2 separate regions of the Homo sapiens genome follow, and region 2 is linked to region 1. The links come from fine-mapping of genetic effects on gene expression. A gene starts in region 1. The other region holds a variant in brackets. All regions are shown on one strand. Distances are from middle to middle.

Region 1 (2,977 bases):
GCAAAGGGAGGCTTCAGTAACCTCCTTTCAACCAGTTTCAGTGGGAAGACAGTGTTAGCTCTCTCACCACTGGACTTTAATTTTGAATCCCGTGCTGGGTCTGGAATAAGAAAGGAGGGCAGCAAAACACTTCCTAGCTCTCCGCAAAATGCCAAGATGGACTCCTGAAGGCCAAGAACCGTGTCCAATACATCTGTGAGTCTGTGGTGCCCAGCCCAAGGCCTGGCAACCAGAGGCATCAGGAAAGGTGGGAGTAACTGCCCCAGGCGGGAAGAATAAGCAGCCCTTCCTAAGAGTGTGGGTCCTAAGGACTGAACAAGGTGACTCTCTCCCTCAATCCCAAACACACAATGATGTTAGCTCCCGAACCAGAAAGGGCAAGGACTTTGAGGGGCTGACTCTAGCTAGCTGCCCCAAGCCCCACAACTGCCAAGCAGAAGGGAACTGAGGCCCCAGATCACTCCCTTACTCCACCTCCCCACTTGCCCAAAAACCCAAGCTTGCCAGAGGTCATGTCCGCAGATCACATTCACCCTTGCCAGAGGTCAGGGCCCCCGGCCCTTGGCGGCGGGCCAGAAGCGTGACTTGGCCTGCTGGAATGCATGCCCCTAAACATCTCTAGACTAGTGGCAGTGTCCGCCAACCATGGAGGCCCTCCATCACCATCCCTGCAGCATCACCACCCTCCAACCCCCATGTCCCACCCTGGCGCTTCCATACCTGTAGTAAGAGAGCAAACCATTGCCCAGCACGAACCAGCGGCGCTGGTAGCCCTTCAGATAGTTGGTCCACTTGAGAAGCCAGCCCTCGAAGCTGTCCAGAGGCAGTAAGGCCAGTGGGGCACTGGAGGTCGTGCCAGTCCCCGACATTGGAACCCCAAGAGGAGTCTTCGCCTGTCCTGGTCGCAGAAGAGGCAGGGGCTTTAACGCTGGCAGCGATCCTGACTCGGGTCTGAGAAAGGTCGCGCTCCCCACCGCCCGGGAGAGCGGCTCCGATGCGGCCTTAGTGAAGGGCCCAGCCCCTACACCTGAGCTTGACTCTGACCCCGGCCGCGACCCCTGCAGCAGTTCCGATGGCTGCCCAGCCCCTGGCTCCGGCTCAGACGTCGTCTCGGACACAGGTTCCGATCTTGGCACTGCCTCCGAAACTGCCTCCGACACCTGTTCTGACAGCGGTCCCCGCTCCGGTTCGGGCACGGGCTGGGGCTGGGGCTTGGGCTCCGGCCCGGAGCCGGACGTGGAAGCGCTCATGCCCGGCGCCGCCGTGTGGCACGACAGGCAGGGGACAACCGTGAACAGCGACGAGAGCCCGCGGGAGCGGCCGCCACAGCCGCCGCCTCGGCTCGGAGCCGCCGCTTTCCCCATAGAGCCGGCCGACCCGCGCGCGGCCGAGCGGCCAGTGGGGGCGGGGGGCAGGCCGGGGGCGGGGCCGGGGGCGCAGTCACGTGCGCGCGGCGCGAGGCGGGGGCGCGCGCGGGTTCCTCCGCGGTCCCGTGCGCTCCGTGCCCGTCAGCGCCCGCCGGCTGTTGTGCTCTCGGCCAGCCTCGGGCCATGTTTGGACCCTGGGTCCTTCCTAGGTCCGGCCGGTGGAAGGAGCTCTGACAACACCTGTGGGCGGAAGAGCTTGGTGGTCGGTCAACTCCGAAGGGGATGGCGCGCTTCAGGCCACGGTCTCTGCTTCGGCCCAGCCGTGCCAGGCGCTGGAGGAACAATGATGAATGCGGAGCCCGCCAGCTCCCAGCGCAGCTCTGCCCACGGGACCCTGCGCCGACGCCCCCTCCCCCAACCCAGGCTGGGGTGGGTTCGCTCTCCGCCACCCAGGAAAGCCGGGTGGGAAGCAGGTACGGCACCCAGAGGCCACGAAATGCGCACGAAGCACAGGGGCGCTAAAGGCTAAAGACGACGCCCCGCCCCCCATGGCAGCCATTACCTGTCTGTGGGTCGCTCCTGCGGCCGCCAGAAGCGGTGGCCCCAAGTGGCCGCCTCACCGCCTCCACCTCCTGAGCCAGCTGGCCTACGGTTCATGCCAAGGCGCTTCGCTGCCAGTGACGACATCGTTCGGGTTCTCTAAACAAATAGGGGAAGACTTTTTGTAAACCAAGCGTTTTAGTACAAGAAACATCTCAAAGTGGGATTCTGAACTTGGACCTCCCGGGATCCCTGGGTAGGCTGGCAGTCTGTGAGGCTTCCGCAGAGGTTTACCTGTCTGTGCATTTTTCCAGAGTAGGTCCATAACAAAGGAGGCTGTGACCCCAGAATGGTTAAAACATCAGCGAATTTTTTTTTCCGCTTTTTTTTTTTTTCCTTTTTGAGACTGAGTCTCACTCGGTAGCCCAGGCTGGAATGCAGTGGCGTGATCTTGGTTCACTGCAGCCTCCGCTTCCCAGGTTCAAGCGATTCTCCTGCCTTGGCCTCCCTAGTAGCTGGAATTCCACGGCCCGCACCATGCCCAGCTAAATTTTGTATTTTTAGTAGAAACGGGGTTTCACCATGTTGGTCAGGCTGGTCTTGAACTCCTGACCTCAGGCCAGGATCCTCCCGCCTCGGCCTCCCAAAGTGCTAGGATTACAGGCGTGAGCCACTGTGCCCAGCCATCAGTGATTTTTTTTTTTTCTTAAGAATCTATCCAAATGACGAAAGTTGATGGTTACTACAAATAATCAGAAATACAAATGGAAAGACTGAACATTGGGTTTCTGTCCAGACTTTTCAAGCTTAGACCTCTCTGCAGACTCCTCTTAGCTCACCATCACGTCTTACTCTCCCCTTACCCACCTATCCATTCCTGATCTTTGCTTGTGACAAGATAACCTGTGTAGGGACTGCTTCCTACGTGAAGTGGTCCCCAGAAGGAAGCAGATTGGAAGGTCCTAGAAATAGGAGGTGCAGACATGCACTGAGCAGGAGCCGCTGGCATCTTTGCTGGTGACTTTGAGACCCCTTCCTCAGGCACTTGTCTTTGAATGGTGGTCTTACCT
Region 2 (2,500 bases), 140 kb before region 1:
ACATGCCTGTAGTCCCAGCTACTTGGGAGGCTGAGGTGGGAGGATCGCTTGAGATGGGGAGGTCGAGGCTGCAGTGAGCCATGATCATGCCACTGCACTCCAGGCAACAAAACGAGACTTTGTATCTTAAAAAAAAAAAGAAAGAAAAGAAAAAAGAAAAAGAAAATTAACTGCATAGTTCATATCATTTACATATATATACAGAAATCAATTCTGGATACATTAAGGACTTCAGTGTGAATCTTGAAAACTGAGCTGGTAAGAAGGGGGCAAGGGCAGAAGGGCAGAGAGGGATGGTGGGAGTGAAGTAGGCACAACAAAGATGAAGGCTCATACTGGAAAAAGTGCCCAGAATGTCCCAGGACAGTGAGATGCTTCCTGGTCACTTGTTCTGCTTGGCCAAAGCAGGCAAAGAGGAGCAGGAGGAGAAAGGTCAGATCATCACCAGAAAGAGCTACCAGGGGTCAGGGTGAGGTCAAAGTAGGCACAGAAACAGCCATGGGAGAAGGCAATTAACTTTGGGCCAAGGAGATCAGAGAGGGTGGTTAACAGGTTCTCCTGTGGTGCTGACTTTGAGTGCTGATCACAGCAGCAGGATGGGGGCTGTTGGTGGCCATAAGTGGCCTCCCATCAGACTCTCACCCATGCCTGGATTGGGACCTCTGCATCTGGAATGTCCCTTGGGAAAGCTAAAGAGTGGATTCAGTACAGTCAAGTGAGCCACCTCCCACTAGATAACTCCAGAGAACAGGGGCAGTGCCAGCATCACCCCCAATTCAGAAGGGCCCTACCCTTGATTTAATTCTCAGCTGTCTTGAAATTCTTAATAATTTTTGCAAGGGGCCCTATATTTTCATTTTGCATTTGCCCCACAAGTCAAGAAGCAGGTTTTGCTAGGGGATGACAGTTCCAGGGACCACTTCTCTGAACCCCAACCACCAAGGACAGTGGATCGGTGCCAGGGTCCCAAGAAGTCCTGTCTGGCTTGGGTTCCAGCCACGTACAACATAAACCAACTTCGTTTAGAATGCCTTCCGTTGGTTTTCCACACAATGGCAGGAGACAGTGCAGCTGACGAGCCATCAAAGAGCAACAACAAATAATAACTGAACTAGTAAGGACACTTCATGCTTTTTGGTTAGTCAATTGCAAGTGAAAACAAGGCACATTATACTGGCCAAAGAATAATCTCTCAGAATGATGGAAGTCTAATGTAGGGAAGCTTACAGCAAGGTGTTGTCCACACCCGCCCCAAGCATCATGAACCAGAACGTTCTTGCCAAGGGTGATGG[G/C]GCTGCTAGAGGGAAGCATTCACACCCTTTGACTCAGCGATTGCATTCTTGGCAATGTGTCCCGGAAAGAAACACAAAGGAAAAACTTTACATGCCAAAGATGCTCAGGCAGCAGTTGGCTACAGTGATCTGGGAAGAACCTAAATGTCTAACAGAAGGAAAAGGCATTCCACAGCCTTCCAACGAATAAACACAAAGCCTGCGATAACGTGGGAAAGTGTTTATGATGTACAGCCATGTGAAAATGACATTTTTTTTTTTTGGATCTCAATGATATTAAAAGGATGTTTGTATAAAGGAAAAACATTGACCAAAAATAGAGACCTAAAAACAGTGGCAAAGGGATAATGGCGCTATGGAAACGCCATGCTCTTGAACATCTGGAATTGTTGTCTAAACAGTAAATAACCCTTAAAAATAATGAATGCCTAGGGCACAGAAGATTGGTCCTGCTGAATCTCAGAAAGTCTGGCCAAAAACAAAGCATGTGTGCTGGGGGACAGGTGAGGAGTGGGATTTGGGGAAGGGATTTTGCCAGGCAGATGAGCAGTTACCAAATGGTTAATGAACTAAGAGTCACATTCCAGGGGCCCTGTCCCGTACAAACTATGCTGCTTCTAATGTAAAAATATCCGCGGTGGAGGGATGCACCCAGTGGGCCTGACCAGGAAAGACACTTGTCCTCTAACCAGCCCCACCTATGGCCGAAAGGCTGATGGCCATGCCAGGTCAGGATGCGGCAGGCAGCCCCAGGGCGCTGTCCAGGTGGGGTTCCATTCCCCAAGTCTGTGGCCTCCTTCCGCCTTGACACACCACCCAGTGTGAGCAACTACTATTTCTGAAGATATGCGTCAGGAATCATTACTCAACACACACGTCACAGGGAAACAGGACATAAAAGGAAATTTATCTTTGGCAGCCCAAAGCCCATAACTTCATTTTTATTCATATTGCTCATCTATTTGATCAGATGCTGCTGCTGGTTTGAGCTGACTGGCACTTTATAGGAAAACCAGATGCCAGGAGAATGAATCTGCAGTGGGCAGGGCCGGGCCCTACAGGACACTCCCTGATGAGGTCAGAAGAAGATGTACATCCAGCAAACCCCTCAGTCCCAGCTCCAGCTCAACCCCATGCATCCAGACTCAGGCCCCTCTCTCCATTTCACTAGCCACCTTGAGATCTTTTCACTGAAGTCTCCCAAGCCC

Which allele goes with the higher level. Alleles are on the strand shown, and positions count from the first base shown. SD is a standard deviation of normalised expression in the study named.
For the expression in unexposed skin of the gene that starts at base 1,400 in region 1, G is the low allele of the variant in region 2 and C is the other (small effect, 0.20 SD a copy in GTEx).

Evidence for each region. PIP is the estimated chance that this variant, and not a neighbour inherited with it, causes the effect.
Region 2: its variant is the best candidate, but not a certain one, in a credible set for the expression of OSBP2 in unexposed skin (GTEx, PIP 0.58).

Annotation. Positions count from the first base shown.
Region 1 is chr22:30,693,297-30,696,273 of GRCh38, reverse strand. OSBP2 (oxysterol binding protein 2) reads right to left here and starts at 1,400. Exons shown (of 14, transcript NM_030758.4): 1 at 721-1,400. The coding sequence starts at 1,364. RefSeq lists silencers at 1,214-1,263, 1,648-1,727.
Region 2 is chr22:30,829,940-30,832,439 of GRCh38, reverse strand. The region is part of intron 2 of OSBP2 (oxysterol binding protein 2); the gene reads right to left. Among named protein-coding and RNA genes, the nearest start is that of MORC2-AS1, 91 kb to the left of the region's middle. RefSeq lists enhancers at 1,548-2,048, 2,049-2,500, 1,485-2,500. The variant G/C (reference allele first, on the strand shown) is at 1,293.